2 linked regions of the Homo sapiens genome follow. The protein of the gene in region 2 purifies or fractionates together with the protein of the main gene of each other region. This does not show direct contact. Each region holds a gene or a part of one and is shown on either strand. Other genes may lie near its edges.

The links.
Region 1: the proteins of ENOPH1 (region 2) and THEM4 purify together in Homo sapiens (affinity purification with mass spectrometry; 2 studies listed by BioGRID and IntAct, with this or other methods). This does not show direct contact.

The regions. Positions count from the first base shown.
Region 1 is NC_000001.11:151,905,846-151,913,949, forward strand, and holds the start of THEM4 (acyl-coenzyme A thioesterase THEM4), read right to left. Parts: upstream 3,667-8,104; 5' UTR 3,614-3,666; coding exon 3,515-3,613; intron 1-3,514. UniProt on the Homo sapiens protein: Has acyl-CoA thioesterase activity towards medium and long-chain (C14 to C18) fatty acyl-CoA substrates, and probably plays a role in mitochondrial fatty acid metabolism. Plays a role in the apoptotic process, possibly via its regulation of AKT1 activity.
Region 2 is NC_000004.12:82,446,932-82,454,855, reverse strand, and holds part of ENOPH1 (enolase-phosphatase E1), read right to left. Parts: intron 6,937-7,924; coding exon 6,835-6,936; intron 3,814-6,834; coding exon 3,611-3,813; intron 135-3,610; coding exon 2-134; intron 1-1. UniProt on the Homo sapiens protein: Bifunctional enzyme that catalyzes the enolization of 2,3-diketo-5-methylthiopentyl-1-phosphate (DK-MTP-1-P) into the intermediate 2-hydroxy-3-keto-5-methylthiopentenyl-1-phosphate (HK-MTPenyl-1-P), which is then dephosphorylated to form the acireductone 1,2-dihydroxy-3-keto-5-methylthiopentene (DHK-MTPene).

The sequences.
Region 1 (8,104 bases), on a different chromosome or scaffold from region 2:
CTGCGGCCGTCTGGGCACCATAGTGAAGATTATGAGATAAGCACTTGCAAGGCTCTTTTGAGCAAGCCTAGATAACAGCCACCTGGGCTGCATAAGCAAGGGTCATAGTGAGAGGTGACAGTGTGCTGGAAGTCCTCACAGCCCTCGCTCCCTCTCGGCGCCTCCTCTGCCTGGGCTCCCACTTTGGCGGCACTTCAGGAGCCCTTCAGCCCACTGCTGCACTGTGGGAGCGCCTTTCTGGGCTGGCCAAGGCCAGAGCCGGCTCCCTCAGCTTGCAGGAAGGTGTGGAGGGAGAGGCGCGAGCAGGAACCAGGGCTGCGCGGGGTGCTTGTGGACCAGCTGGAGTTCCAGGTGGGTGTGGGCTTGGCGGGCCCTGCACTCGGAGCAGCCAGCCGGCCCTGCCGGCCCCACGCAATGAGGGGCTTAGCACCCGGGCCAGTGGCTGCAGAGGGTGTACTGGGTCCCCCAGCAGTGCCGGCCCACTGGCGCTGCGCTCGATTTCTCACTGGGCCTTACCTGCCTTCTGGCGGGGCAGGGCTCGGGACCTGCAGCCTGCCATGCCTGAGCCTCCCACGCCCTCCGTGGGCTCCTGCACGGCCCGAGCCTCCCTGATGAGTGCTGCCCCCTGCTCCACGGCGCCCAGTCCCATCGAGCACCCAAGGGCTGAGGAGTGTGGGCACACAGCGTGGGACTGGCAGGCAGTTCCACCTGCAGCCCCAGTGCGAGATCCACTGGGTGAAGCCAGCTGGGCTCCTGAGTCTAGTGGGAACTTGGAGAACCTTTATGTCTAGCTAAAGGACTGTAAATACACCAATCGGCACTCTGTATCTAGCTCAAGGTTTATAAACACACCAATCAGCACCCTATGTCTAGCTCAGGGGTTGTGAATGCACCAATCGACACTCTGTATCTAGCTACTCTGGTGGGGACTGGGAGAACCTTTGTGTTGACACTCTGTATCTAGCTAATCTGGTGTGGACGTGGAGAACCTTTGTGTCTAGCTCAGGGATTGTAAATGCACCAATCAGGGCCCTGTCAAAACAGACCACTTGGCTCTACCAATCAGCAGGATGTGGGTGGGGCCAGATAAGAGAATAAAAGCAGGCTGCCCAAGCCAGCAGTGGCAACCCGCTCGGGTCCCCTTCCACACTGTGGAAGCTTTGTTCTTTCGCTCTTTGCAATAAATCTTGCTGCTGCTCACTCTTTGGGTCCACACTGCCTTTATGAGCTGTAACACTCACCGCGAAGGTCTGCAGCTTCACTCCTGAAGCCAACGAGACCACAAACCCACCGGGAGGAACGAACAACTCCAGACGTGCTGCCTTAAGAGCTATAACACTCACCACGAAGGTCCGCAATTTCACTCTTGAGCCAGCAAGACCATGAACCCACCAGAAGGAAGAAACTCTGAACACATCCGAACATCAGAAGGAACAAACGCCGGACATGCCGCCTTTAAGAACTATAACACTCACCACGAGGGTCCGTGGCTTCTTTCTTGAAGTCAGTGAGACCAAGAACCCATCAATTCCGACACAGTATGTAATCCTGAATTATGCACCTGTCACAATTTGATGAATTAATTGCCTTTGTGCTGCCTCTGTATCCTTGCTTTCACGCCACTATGCTTCACGCCACTGTAAGCTTGTTTCAAGCTAGCCCACCCCCTTTTAAAAGTGTGTATTAAAGTCAAGTGCTGTCTTTGTTCTGGGCCCAGCTTTTGGATGTTAGTCCGCTGGGTCTGAGTGCACTCAATAAAGTTCTCCTGTCTCACCCCATGGCCTCTCCAGTCCTCCTTCATTCCTGCAACAGAAGGATGAGTGAAATGGGGACTCAAAACCTCTCACTTTCATTTCTGAGCCTTTTGGTCTTATGGCATTCCTCTTCTTTTTGGGGGGACAGCAACGGCACCTATTTTTCTTTTTACGATACTGGAGGTGGTCCACACCCACCCCAATGGTCACCAGTGCACTCACAAGACAGTTGGGTGGGGTAGCTCCCTGGCCCCACTTCTTTACTGGCTGGGGTGCATGGTGGTGTCTGCAGCATGTGTGTGTGGTGTCCAGTAGCCACACAGGGCATAAATGAGCCACAGCCACTGCCCAGGCTCCAAGGCGCCGGCATGGCTGGCTGGCGTTCCCTACCAGGTGCCTGCAGTCTCCCCCTCCCCATTCCAGGGAGTCTAGCTCTGTCCCACAGCAATTAAGCTCCTCTCTCTGGTGGAGGAACCATTTGCATAGGAATAAGAGGTTCTTCCCCCAGGCATCCTTATCTCCTCTCCAACCCATCAGCAGTATACTTTTAAAGGAGGTTTTTCTTTTCCTTTTGGAAGACGTTTTGCTCTTTTGGGAATGATGAGGATTACCGTTTATATTTTCTGTAAAGTTTTGTGCGAAAGGATTTGTGAGGTAAGTCGTAAGCTGTAGCCAATCTGTGTGTTTTGCATGTCTTTCTGTATGCTCCACAGCAAACTTCGCTGCAGGCCTCCATCTTGTTTTACGTCCTTGGGGGCGTGGCCTGTAACCCCATTGCATAGCTTCGTTTAGCCCGGCATGGCCCAGATTCATCCTGGCTTAGGGAATGAGTCCTTTCTGGTTTGGTATCTGTATGCCCTTTCGCTATTTGTCGATTCCCCTGCCCTCCACCAACCACCTTGGATTTTCCTTTCTCTGAGCCTTTAAGTAAAGTTTGAAAGCCAGAAATATTGGCCGCTTGGTGGAGCTAAAGTTAGATAATAAGGGTGTTAAAAGAATTTTCTTAAGGAGTGCTCAGCTTAATTAAAAGTAGATATCTAAGTTGTAATTATATTTATAAGGCCTTTATGTTTTCCTTTTCTTGGACCTTATTTTGCTGGAAAAAGTGTTTCTTTGCGGTCGACTGAGTTATTTTTCTCCATTTTGCCTTGCCACTTTTAATGCCTGCATAAGAGGGGCGATCTCTGTTTTCCTCATGGAACCCCAGGAATTAAAAGCAGATAGATCCCTCTCCCTGTGATGAAAGATCTTATGGCAACTGGGTTTTCTTCTGCCTGTCTGTGTAGTTATATATGTGTTGTGTGTGATGTCTATAAAAAGATCTCTAATTAATTGACCTAAAGGAAGATAAGCGTTTGGATCAAATATTTTTTTAAAGGGAAGATAAAAGCTGTGGTATCTTTTAGTTCACGTCACTTTAATCTTTGAAAAATAAAAACAGCCTCAAATATTATTGGTAAAATACAGATGTTGTCAAAATATAAATAGACAGACTAAATTATGCAGTTCAGGTAGCGCCCTGCCGACCCTGTCTCTTAAAAAACAAAAAAACGGGGTCACCTTTCCATCCCTTTTCTAACGGTTTGAATCTCAGGACTGTATTCCTAGGCCCCTGTTGCTTATGCTGCCCTGTGGTGCCCAGGTGAGCTTTTATTCTGAGATTGGCTGGTTGGGGTATGGATAACAATCGAAGGCTCTGTTACCGCAGGCGTGTTTCTGAGTCCTGCTCCCGCCCCATGCCCGAGGGTGCCCAGACTCACCAGCTCGGGTCGCGGCTCGCTTCCCGGCAGGCGCCGGCCTACTGGCGGCAGGCACAGAGCCCCCAGCGTGCGGAGGCGCGCGGCGCAGCTCCTCAGCATGGCTCCGGGCCGCGGGGCCGCGCTTGCTCTAGCCCTGGACGGCGCACTCTACCTCCGCCACAAGAGCGCGCGTGCGAGTTAACCCCTGGGGTGGACGCAGGGCGGGGCTTGGGGAGGAGGCGGTGCGCACTACTGGCGGCTGGCTGGCCGGGGTGTGAGGCCGGCGGGGTCCGGGTAGGGCATCGCTGTTGAGTCTATCTTCTGGTTCCGGCCTTTTCTTTCCGAAGACCTCCCGCTGCGGCCAACAGCCGGGCCACTTCCGGGGCTTCTCAAAGGCAAGAGGAGCGCGGCCGGAGCGGATCCCGGTTATCGCCTTGGGCCCCTCAGCCCCTCAGCCCCGGAACCCGCGCGCCGACTGGAGGCTTTGCGGTCATCCTTCCCACATGACCCAGGGCGTACGCAGTGCTCCGTGTCCCCAAGTAGTTATCCCTCCCCCGGAAGACTGAAGTCCCTGGGGCGGGTAGGAGCGCACGCTAGGAGTAGTATGAATAAAGTGTTTTCTTGGAGGTCATGGGCAAGTCTCTGGACAGGGTTGATAGTGCTGATTTATAGAGGGCAGTCTGGGCACAAAGAGCATTTATACGATCGAAAAGCTGCTTTCCCTGCCAACAGCCCCATACCCTCCCCAGGAGCGCGCTTACGCCTTAAAAGACTCTTTTGTTATGTAAACTGACAGTTAAATTAAACGAAGGTAATGGATACTAAAGGCGTAACAGGTATTGTAACTATTTTACTGTTATCGATGCTTTTGAGGTTACTTACCTCGCTTGTATTCGTATGGTGGGAATACTAGGCGCATACCTTCTGAGCTTCGAATTCAGTAACCTCACTGGGACCTTGAAATCGGACTGGGTTGGAGTATTCCCATTACTCAGATAATGCAAATCCGGGCCATCATACCCCTTTATTTTTAAATGCTTACCAGTATGCCATAGCCCTAGTCCATCCTAAGGTGAAGACTCTAATGGGTTTTTTTTGAGACAGAGTCTCGCAGAGATACTGCTATTGCACTTCAGCCTGGGCAACATACTGATGCCCCATCTCAAAAAAGCAATAAATTAAAAAGAAAACTCGAATGACCTGAATGCATTAGATATTTTGCCTTGATTCCTTTCCCATGAACAACTCCAGCAGTTTGTCAGTAGGTAAGAACACCTAGATACATTTTAAGCCTACACTATTAACTGGGGGAAGGTGTAACATTCTGAGAGAAAGGGAATTGGGGAGAGAAGGCAATGCAGTTAGGAGGGGCCCCTTGGAATCCTAGAGCTACTGAACCGAAGATCAGGCATAAAGGATGGTTGTTGAGATTCTGTAATTCTAAGAGGTTGTATTCTGATATCTCCTAAGCACCCCCCCCAACCTCCCACATTCCCTTTATCTCAGTTGTCTTCCTTTTTAATATATTAATAGTATTGCAGTTTCCTGGTGGCAGGGATGGGGTCAGATTGCCTTATTAATTGTAACAACGTGCACGTAGTGCTTGAATACTTACTTAGCAGCAAGAATCCAAAGTATCTTTGGTGTCTGTTGTCTTCCCATGTTGTGCGTGCAGATGGAGGCACGAGCATAACGTAAATCTCTAAAATTGAGATGACTACTGTTAATGAATAGAAAAGTTTATTCAGGTAACTTAAAATTGCATCTATTTACAATTTACAGTGTAGTCAAATCAATCAATACCTATAGACTTCAACCCTGCTAAGATTGTCTATATGATTAATGTACCAATAGCTCACCTAACAGCTTCCTTTTGTTTTTTTGAGATGGAGTCTCACTCTGTTGCCCAGGCTGGAAGTGCAGTGGCATGATCTTGGCTCACTGCAACCTCTGCCTCCAGGGTTCAAGCGATTCTCCCTGCCTCAACCTCCCGAGTAGGTGGGATTACAGGCGCGTGCCACCACATCTGGCTAATTTTTATATTTTTGGTAGAGACGGGGTTTCACCCTGTTGGCCAGGCTGGTCTTGAACTCCTGACCTCAAGTGATCTGCCTGCCTCCCAAAGTGCTGGGATTACCAGCATGAGCCACTGCACTCGGCACCTATCAGCTTCTTAAAAGACCTTAGACTTAGGGCAATTAGAGGTCAGTTACACTGAGTTTAAACTTCATTAAATTTTAACTCTAAATTTTTCAAGTAGCGGCAGTGCATTTAGTTAAGTCATCCACACTCTTGCATGGCTTACTCTGGGATATTCGTGTTGACAGCACATATAAAATGTCTGGTCAGATTTGGAAGAGGAAGGGCAGGTTACAGTCTAGAAATAGGATTGATAGGCTATGGAAGTGAAGGAGTTTGAAGCTTGTATGGTTTAGGCAAGGAACAAATGTTCAATCTTGATAGAACTAGGCTTCGAATAAGCCAATGGTATGAAACTTAATAGTCTTCTCACCATTCTTTAATTTTGTAGACAGCTTTATTGAGGTGTAGTTGCCATAGGATGGGCACCGTGGCTCATACCTGTAATTCCAGCACTTTGGGAGGCTGAGGTGGGTGGATCACCTGAGGTCAGGAGTTTGAGACCAGCCAGGCCAACATGGTGAAACCCCGTCTCTGCTAAAAATACAAAAATTAAGGCCGGGCGCAGTGGCTCACTCCTATAATCCCAGCACTTTGTGAGGCTGCAGCGGGCAGATCACGAGGTCAGAAGATTGAGACCGTCCTGGCTAACACGGTGAAACCCTGTCTCTACTAAAAATACCAAAAATTAACCGGGCGTGGTGGCGGGCGCCTGTAGTCCCAGCTACTCGGGAGTCTGAGGCAGGAGAATGGCGTGAACGTGGGAGGCGGAGCTTGCAGTGAGCCAAGATCGCGCCACTGCACTCCAGCCTGGGCGACAGAGTAAGACTGAGTCTCAAAAAAAAAAAAAAAAAAAAAGTTAGCCAGGTGTGGTGGCGCATGCCTGTAATCCCAGCTACTTGAGAGGCTGAGGCAGGAGAATCGCTTGAACCTGTCAGGTGGAGGTTGCAGAGAGCCGAGATCGCGCCATTGTACTCCAGCCTGGGCAACAAGAACGAAACTCCATCTCAAAAAAAAAAAAAAAAAAAAAGCCAGAGGCAGTGGCTCATGCCTGTAATCCCAACACTTTAGGAGGCTGTGGCAGGCGGATCACAAGGTCAGGAGTTCGAGACCAGCCTGACCAACATGATGAAACCCCGTCTTTACTAAAAATACAAAAATTAGCTGGGCATGGTGGCGTGCACCTGTAATCCCGGCTACTCGGGAGGCTGAGGCAGGAGAATTGCTTGAACCCGGGAGGCGGAAGTTGCAGTGAGCCAGGATTGCACCACTGCACTCCAGCCTGGGTGACAGAATGAGACTCCGTCTCAAAAAAAAAAAAAAAAAAAAAAAAGAGATAGTTGACATAAACTGAACATATTTAAAGTATACAATTGGATGTTTTCATACAAGTTTACACTCATGCAAACATCACCATAATCAAGATAATGAGCCACAAAATATTACCCACAAATTTGCTCATGCCCTTTTGTAAATCCTCCCTTCTATCGTACAGTACTTTCTGTCACTGTAGATTAATTTCCATTTTCTAGAGTTTTATATAAATGGAATTATATAGTATGTACTTTTTGTGGTCTGGATTTTTTTAATTCACTATAACTATTTTGAGATTCATCCATGTTTTGCTTATGTCGAGAATTTATTTTTTAAAATTGCTGAGTAGTATTCCATTGTATGGATGTACCACAATTTTTCTATTCACCCATGGATGACCATTTGGCTTATTTCCAGTTTTTGTGAATTACAAATATAGCTGCTGTGAGTACAAGTCTTTGTATGGATGTATGCCTTCATTTCTCTTGGGTAAATATCTAAGAGTGGAATGGTTGGATCATGTGGTAGATGTATGTTTAACTGTTTAAGAAACTGCCAAACTTTTCCAAAGTTGTTGTATCATTTTACCAGCAGTGCATAAGGATTTCAGTTCCTCCATATCCTTGCCAGCCTTCGGTATGGTCAATCTTTTATGTTTTAGCCATTGTAACTAGATGTGTGTAAGTATTTTATTGTGGTTTTAATTGGCATTTTCCTAATGATGAATAATGTAGGACATCTATGGGCTTATTTTTCATCTGTGTATCTTCTTCATTGAAACGTCTATTCAAATATTTTGCCCATTTAAAATAATGAGATATTTGTATTCTTATTATTGCACTTATTAATGCACCTCTGATAACATTTCACATCTAAATTTTAAGTTAAATTTCAAACCTTCCATTTATAAGAAAACTGAATGTCAGCGTGATGCTAGCTGCTTTAATATTTCTTGCTGAATTTTTCTTGGATTTGTTGTCATAGGTCTCACTCTTGGAAAGGATGTATTCTTGAATTGTTATCCATGGGGCAAGGCACCAAAATGAGTCTCCGGCTGGGTGAAGGGTCCATCTTCCCTTTCAGTAGTGGAAGAAGGGTGACTGTGAAAGAGGAGGTTGAAAAGAGGAATTGCAGGCTCATTTTTAGGTAGATACAATT
Region 2 (7,924 bases):
CCTCAAGAATATCTCCCTCCGTAGAATGCCCGAATAACAGTTTCTGTGCCTCCACACTCCCTGAGGAATAGATGTACACCTTCATTCCGGCCTCTCTCCACTTCCTGACTGCTGGAACTACATCTGCAAAGAACCTAGAGGGAAGACCACTAAGTTAAAATACAGGAACACCTCATCTAGCCAGATAAAAACCTGTCAAAACAGATGCCATATGTTTCTCTCTTTGTGCCCACATGGTAACCTGAGAAGCAGCTCCCTGAGACTACAAACTCCTGCAGTTCTAATAAACATACTGCCCAAGTTCCAGGCTCACAGCAGATTAGAAGCAACAATCTATGTGGAAAGGAGGATAGTTTTGAACAGACAGCCACTAGTGACAGTAAAAAGGGACTACAGATAAAAGGATGAAATGGGAAAGTGTTTTTTAAATTCCCGAAGAACTCAAAAAAGCAAACAACAGCAATGATATAATATAATCTTTGATGTTCTTCATGACAAGAAAAGGTTAAATTATGTCCACTGTGCTTTAAGAAAGCATGGAAATGCTTTTAGAAAGATCTGCACCCAAAATAATCAAAACAAAGTTTGAAGGCTCAAAGCTATAAACTTATGATTAGCTAGAAAATGGAATTACTTTTTTTTGAGACAGGGTCTTGCTCTGTTGCCTAGGCTGGAGTGCAGTGGCATGATCTCAGCTCACTGCAACCTCTACCTCCTGGGCTCGAGTGATCCTCCCACCTCAGCCTCCCAGGTAGTTGGGACTACAAGCATGTGCTACCACCCCCAGCTTTTTTTTTTTTTTTTTAATTTTTTGTAGAGATGGTGCTTTGCCATGTCACCCAGGCTGGTCTCAAACTCCTGGACTCAAGTGATCCCCCCACTTCAGCCTCCCAAAGTGCTGGGATTACAGGCATGAGCCACTGCACCCGGCCTGCATTTTTTGAGAACTAAGAAAACAATGTTTTATTATATGGGGAAAAAATTACATAACAAGTCAGTTGAGACTTGTACCAACTCACATTAACCAGTCAGCAAAAGATGTCTTTTTCTGACTTCTGACACTCAGTCTCTCTTACCAATTCTAGTGTTTTCCATAGTCATGGAGGAAATTAACATCACAGGAGAAAGGTGAAAAGAGAAGCACAAAGAACTTGGGTTGTAGAACCAGTCATCTCTAAAAGATTACCTGGAAAATGTCAGTGGAGTCTTCCGCTTTATATGTATTAACATGCTTAACATGTTGCACTAATTGAAGGAAAGAGATCAACGTATTCAAAACCAGTACACATGTAAGTATGTTATTCTGAGTACTAGTTTGCACTCATGGAGACAGGATTTTTCCTGTCTTCAGCAGTTAGTTGTATAATTAAGGAACCAAGACCAAGAGAAGTATGGGCTAACTACCGGGTGCACAGTCTCCTGTCTCCACTTTTTTGAGTGCTTTACAAAGTGAACCTGGCTGATATTCCCAGATCACTGGCATATCCTGAAATTCCAGTCCATCCTTTAAAAGGTAGAAGCTCCTCGTAAAGTACATAAATAAAGAAACAACATCTCATTTGACAGAAACACAAAAGAAATATATGCAGCTGGAAACAATCTTGGATCCTAGGGTTTACAGCAGGCAATGGCCTAAAATCCTTAAGAATTTCACACCCAGGTGCAGTGGCTCACACCTGTAATCCCAGCACTTTGGGAGGCCAAGGGGGGGCGGATCACAAGGTCAGGAGATCGAGAGCATCCTGGCTAACACGGTGAAACACTGTCTCTACTAAAAATACAAAAAATTAGCCGGGCGTGGTGGCACACGCCTGTAGTCCCAGCTACTCGGGAGGCTGAGGCAGGAGAATGGCGTGAACCCAGGAGGCGGAGCTTGCAGCGAGCTGAGATCACGCCACTGCACTCCAGCCTGGGTGACAGAGCAAGACTCCGTCTCAAAAAAAAAAAAAAAAAAAGAATTTCTCAGCAGGCCTGGCACAGTGGCTCACGCCTGTAATCCTAGCACTTTGGGAGGCCAAGGTAGGTGGACTGCCCTGAGCTCAGGAGCTTAAGACCAGCCTGGACAACATGATAAAACCCTGTCTCTACTAAAATACAAAAAATTAGCCAGGTGTGGTGGCACGCACCTGTAGTCCCCGCTGTTTGGGAGGCTGAGGTACAAGAATTGCTTGAACCCAGAGGGCGGAGGTTGCAGTGAGCTAAGATTGTGTGAATGCACTCCATCCTGGACAACAGAGTGAGACTATCTCCAAAAACAAAAATAGGCCGGGAGGGGTGGCTCATACCTGTAATCCTAGCAGTTTGGGAGGCTGAGATGGGGTGGACCACTTGAGGTCAGGAGTTCAAGACCAGCCTGGCCAATATGGTGAAACCCCATGTCTACTAAAAATACAAAAATTAGCATAGTGGCAGGCGGCTACTCCAGAGGCTGAGGCAGGAGAATCGCTTGAACCCAGGAGGTAGAAGTTGCAGTGAGCTGAGATTGCGCCACTGCACTCCAGCCTGGGCAAAGAGCAAGACTCGGTCTCAAAGCAAAAACAGAAACAAACAAACGAAAAGAATTTATCAGCAATATGGTATGGACAACATAGCAAGACCACACCTCTACAAAAATGTTTTTTGAATAGCCAGGTGTGGTGGTGCGTGCCTGTGGTCCCAGCTAATGAGGAGGCTGAGGCGGGAGGTTCACTTGAAGGCTACAGTGAGCTATGATGGCACCACTGCACTCCAGTGTGGATCACAGAGCAAGACCCCAGCTCTAAAAAAAAAAAAATAGGCCAGGTATTGTGACTTACGCCTGTAACCCCAGCATTTTGGGAGTCCAAGGCAGGCAGATCGCTCAAGCCCAGAAGTTTGAGACTAGCCTGGGCAACATGGTAGAACCCCATCTGTACTAAAAATACAAAAACTAGCTGGGCATGGTGGCACATGCCTAGTCCCAGCTACTCGGTAGGCTGAGGTGGGAGGATCACCTGAACTAGGGGAGGTCAAGGCTGCAGTGAGCCATGATCATGCCACTGCACTCCAGCCAACAGAGTAGGACCCTGTCTGAATCAATCAAGAATTTCTCAGTAAGTATAATACTCAAAAGTCTCCTCAGGCAGGAGTGCTATTAGGAACTCCATAACCAAGACTCAAAGAATCTGTGGAAGTTGCTCAAAAGAGCAAAGAAGAACGTGGTAGTGCGGACATCCTCTGAGTAACCTCAACACGGTGGGGCACAAAATTTCCTATGTCTCATAGAGCAAAAAGCAGGTAATTAACAGTCCAGGCAAGCAGCCCAACGGAGCTGTCACTCATGTGCTAAGAATCAAATATGACTTAGTTCAAGGAAGTCACCATTTTCTAGGAAGCTATTTTAAACGGAGACTTTGACAAGTCCTTCAATCAACCCACAAGACCAGACTGGCAGGTCCGGGTAATCTAGTCAGCTGAAATATTTTAGCCAAGTTTTGAAAAAATGAAACAAAGCTCACTTGTTAGACTAAAAAGAGTGTGGATTTTTATCTGTTTTACCAGTCTTGTGACTTACGCTGGAAAGAGAGGACTGGTGAAAAAACATATTTGGATTTGGGACTGGTGAAATGTTTAGGCTGACTCAAGCACATACTCTGCTTTCATGCGCCCAGCTGTGAATGCCGCCCTCCACATGTGGCCCTGCAGCTGTTTGAGTGCAGTGGTCTTTCGATCCAGGGACATCTGCCAGCACACATTATCTACCACGGCCTGGATCATCTGTTGCAGATCATCCACTCCATTCCCAGATGCTGCAGGGATAGGAACAGCCCCATCCAGGTGGGCGTCCTCTTCAGCCTTTAAGTCAGAAACAACATGATGTTTGTTTTTTGCTTATTCAAAAAACAGTCATTTAAAACGAGACCCAAAAACCCAGCAGAACAACTTTCTCCATCATTAGCCCTAGTATGGCTGCAAATTGAAACATCATATACTTTGGAGCTGATACAAATGATTCCTAAAAGAACCTGGATTAATAAATTTACATTACCTTTCCTTTTGCTAAAAGCTGAAATTTAAACTGAGACGCATGTTGTATATGAGAAGAGAGAGCACATAATGATAGAATTAAGATTTGATTTGTTGATTCACTACTGGGATCAACAAACCAGGACTTTAACTCAATCTGATAATTTTCTCTGCACTATAACTAATGGAGAAAGAAACAAAGAAAATCTCATAAATTAGTTTATGCCTGGAATTCAGCAAAAAGAAGCTAGTGAAGTAATGAGGTTGGTTCACATTCAGTCTCCTATAATCTCCCACATCTTGCAAAAATCCTAGTAGCCACTTAGAACAATGACCTTGTGACAAAGCAGTCCAATTTCTAAAGATACATGTGTACATATTTATATACAATAATGGGGGACTATGTATGTATGTTTCAACAAGGTTTTGACAACAAAAAAAGGTAAGGGAGGAAAGTAAAGTAAGTCCTCATTTAACATCATTGAAAGGTTCTTGGAAACTGTGACTTCAAGTGGCATGACCTTCTCAAGTAATGTCATTTCCTTCAACATCATTTTGTTATAACATTTATGTGGAGAAAAAATTGGTTTTGTTATGGTTGGTTTAAAATTGAAAATTGAAATTTAAGTGTCATTTCACTTAGTTTCCAAGAACCTAAAGACAACATTAAGTAAGGACTCACTGTATTTCAGATTAACCCTGAGTTATCCAGAAAATTAAAATCCCAAATATTCCATGCCCAAAGGACATAACTACATTTTGAATCCTAATTCCTAACAGTAAAACATCCACAGAGAGCATTCCACAGTATCCAATATAGAACTAGAAAATAACTGCCAGTGAGTTAGCTCTGCAGACCATGTAAGATCTTTGCCACTGAAGCAATTTTAACAAGAAAAACAACAGAGCAGGAGTTCCATAGCACACAATGTGGAAGGAAAAGACAGACTGATGACTGGTGGGGAGAAGAGGGTAGAACAAAGCACAGGAGACCAAAGGAGGTATGAGGGCTGGGCCAGAGTGAGCTGGGGTGAGGAGTCTGGAAGGGGAGTGTGAGTGTGAGGACCCAGGAGCACTGCAGAGGGGGCAGCAGGGGCTTGCAGTAAGGAAGGAGGGAGTGCAAAATGATGAAGTACTGTCATATGGAGAATGACATGGCTTGGATGTGTGTCCCCACCCAAATTGCACATTGAAATGTAATCCTCAGTGCTGGAGGTGAGGCCTAGTGGGAGGTGACTGGATCGCGGGGATAGACTTCTCGTGAATGGTTTGTTTAGCACCATCCTCCTTGATGCTGTCCTCACAATAGTGAGTTCTGGTTGTTTTAAAGTGTGTAGCACCTCCCCTCCCCACTCTCTTGCTCCTGACTTTCACCATCTGAGACGCCTGCTCCGGCTTTGCCTTCCATCATGATTAGAAGCTTCCTGAGGTCTCCCCAGAAGCAGATGCCGCTATGTTTCCTGTATAGCCTGTAGACCTGTGAGCCAATTAAACCTCTTTTCTTAAAAATTACCCACTCTCAGGTATTTCTTTACAGCAATGTGAGAACAGACTAATATAGAGACGTTAATAAAAAATGTAGAGACTGCTCAAAACCTTTTGCATTCTACCCAGAAAGGACTCTTTTTTTTTGAGACGGAGTCTTGCTCTGTAGCCCAGGCTAGAGTGCAGTGGCGCCATCTCGGCTCACTACAACCTTCACCTCCCACGTTCAAGCAATTCTCCTGCCTCAGCCTCCCAAGGAGTTGTGACTACAGGTGCCCGCCACCATGTCCGGCTAATTTTTTGTATTTTTTTTTTTTTTTTTTTTTTTTGAGACGGAGTCTCGCTCTGTCGCCCAGGCTGGAGTGCAGTGGCGGGATCTCGGCTCACTGCAAGCTCCGCCTCCCGGGTTCACGCCATTCTCCTGCCTCAGCCTCCCAAGTAGCTGGGACTACAGGCGCCGGCCACTACGCCCGGCTAATTTTTTGTATTTTTAGTAGAGACGGGGTTTCACCGTTTTAGCCGAGATGGTCTCGATCTCCTGACCTCGTGATCCGCCCGCCTCGGCCTCCCAAAGTGCTGGGATTACAGGCGTGAGCCACCGCGCCCGGCCTAATTTTTTGTATTTTTAGTAGAGGCAGCGTTTCACCATTTTGGCCAGGCTGGTCTCAAACTCCTGACCTCGAGTGATCCACCCACCTCGGCCTCCCAAAGTGCTGAGATTACAGGTGTGAGCCACCGTGCCCAGCCTAGAGTTGCCTTTTTCTAGAGCTATTTAAATTGCCTAACAATATCATATATTTGCAAACTTAAGCCCTTTTTGGGTGGGCTGGGGGTGGTAAGCTCATGCCTGTAATCCCAGCACTTTGGGAGGCCGAGGAGGGTAGATCACTTGAAATCAGGAGTTCTAGACCAGCCTGTCCAATGCGGTGAAACCCAATCTCCACTAAAAATACAAAAAATTAGCTGGGCATGGTGGCAGGTGCCTGTAGTCCCAGCTACTCGGGAGGCTGAGGCAGGAGAATCGCCTGAACCCAGTAAGCGAGGTTGCAGTGAGCTAAGATCACACCACCACACTCCAGCCTGGGCAACGAAGTGAGACTCCATCTCAAAAAAAAACAAAAAAAACAAAACAAAACAAAACAAAAAAAAACAACCAAAGAGCAACTCCAGAAACAACAAACTGACATGATCCAGCCTTTAATTATGTACTGTGAATTCCTAAGCAGGCAACTCACTAAGTCACTGCAACTTCTATCCCCTATCAAACCAGGGCACTTATTTTACAAAATGCTCAGAGCATGTCCTAAATCTCCAGGTACCCTCATTTCTAAGACACTTGGGAATTTAAGACAGAAATGTCCCAACCTGTTTCCTCAAAAGACTGACATCCTGCTGGCACTCCTCTTCTTCCCAATGTGTCTGCAGATACTCTTTAACATTTTCTTCGATGTAAGGAAATAAAATGTCCTGGATAAAAGAGTAAAAGAAAATACAAGAGTTAGCTTTTATCAGTTGTAAAAGATCCAGTTCTTCCACAATCTTACCTACATAACTGTAACAAATAAATCAATGGAACTCTATGAAAATTGCTGCTGTGAATATGAGCAAGAAAGAGAGACAGAGGCCAAGAAACAAATAAACTAGACCAAGAGTCGGCAAACTACAACCTGCAGGCCAAATCAAGTCCACTGCCTATTTCTGTAAATGAAGTTTTATTGGAACATAGCCACACTCATTTATTTAAATAATGTCTGTGGCTACTTTTGCATCACAATGGCAGAATTCAGTATTTGCAACCAAGACCATAGGGCCTGCAAAGCCTAAAATATTCACTGTCTGGTCCTTTACAGGAAAAGTCTCCCAACTACAGAACTAGATGGCCAGACCAAAGGTCCTTGAGGATATGGATTAAATGTGTCTTGCTCACAGCTTTATCCCCCATGCATACCACATTATTGTACATATCACTCAAATAATCTGCTGAAAAGAATGGTGTCCATACATGACAAGTATTTAAAAAAAAACAAAACAAACTTGATCACCATGACTCTTTCTTGGTAACTAGACTACCTTTGGAGCATCCTATAAGAAAGTGATATGCAGCTGGGCATGGTGGCTCACACTTGTAATCCTAGCACTTTGGGAGGCCGAGGCAGGCAGATCACCTGAGGTCAGGAGTTTGAGACCAGCCTGGCCAACATGGTGAAACCCTGTCTCTACTAAAAATACAAAAATTAGCCAGGTGTGGTGGCGGGTGCCTGTAATCTCAGGTACTCGGGAGGCTGAGGCAGGAGAATCGCTTGAACCTGGGAGGCAGAGGTTGCAGTAAGCTGAGATCCCATCATTGTATTCCAGCCTGGGGGACAGAATAAGATTCCGTTGGCCAGGCGCGGTGGCTCACGCCTGTAATCCCAGCACTTTGGGAGGCCGAGGCGGGTGGATCATGAGGTCAGGA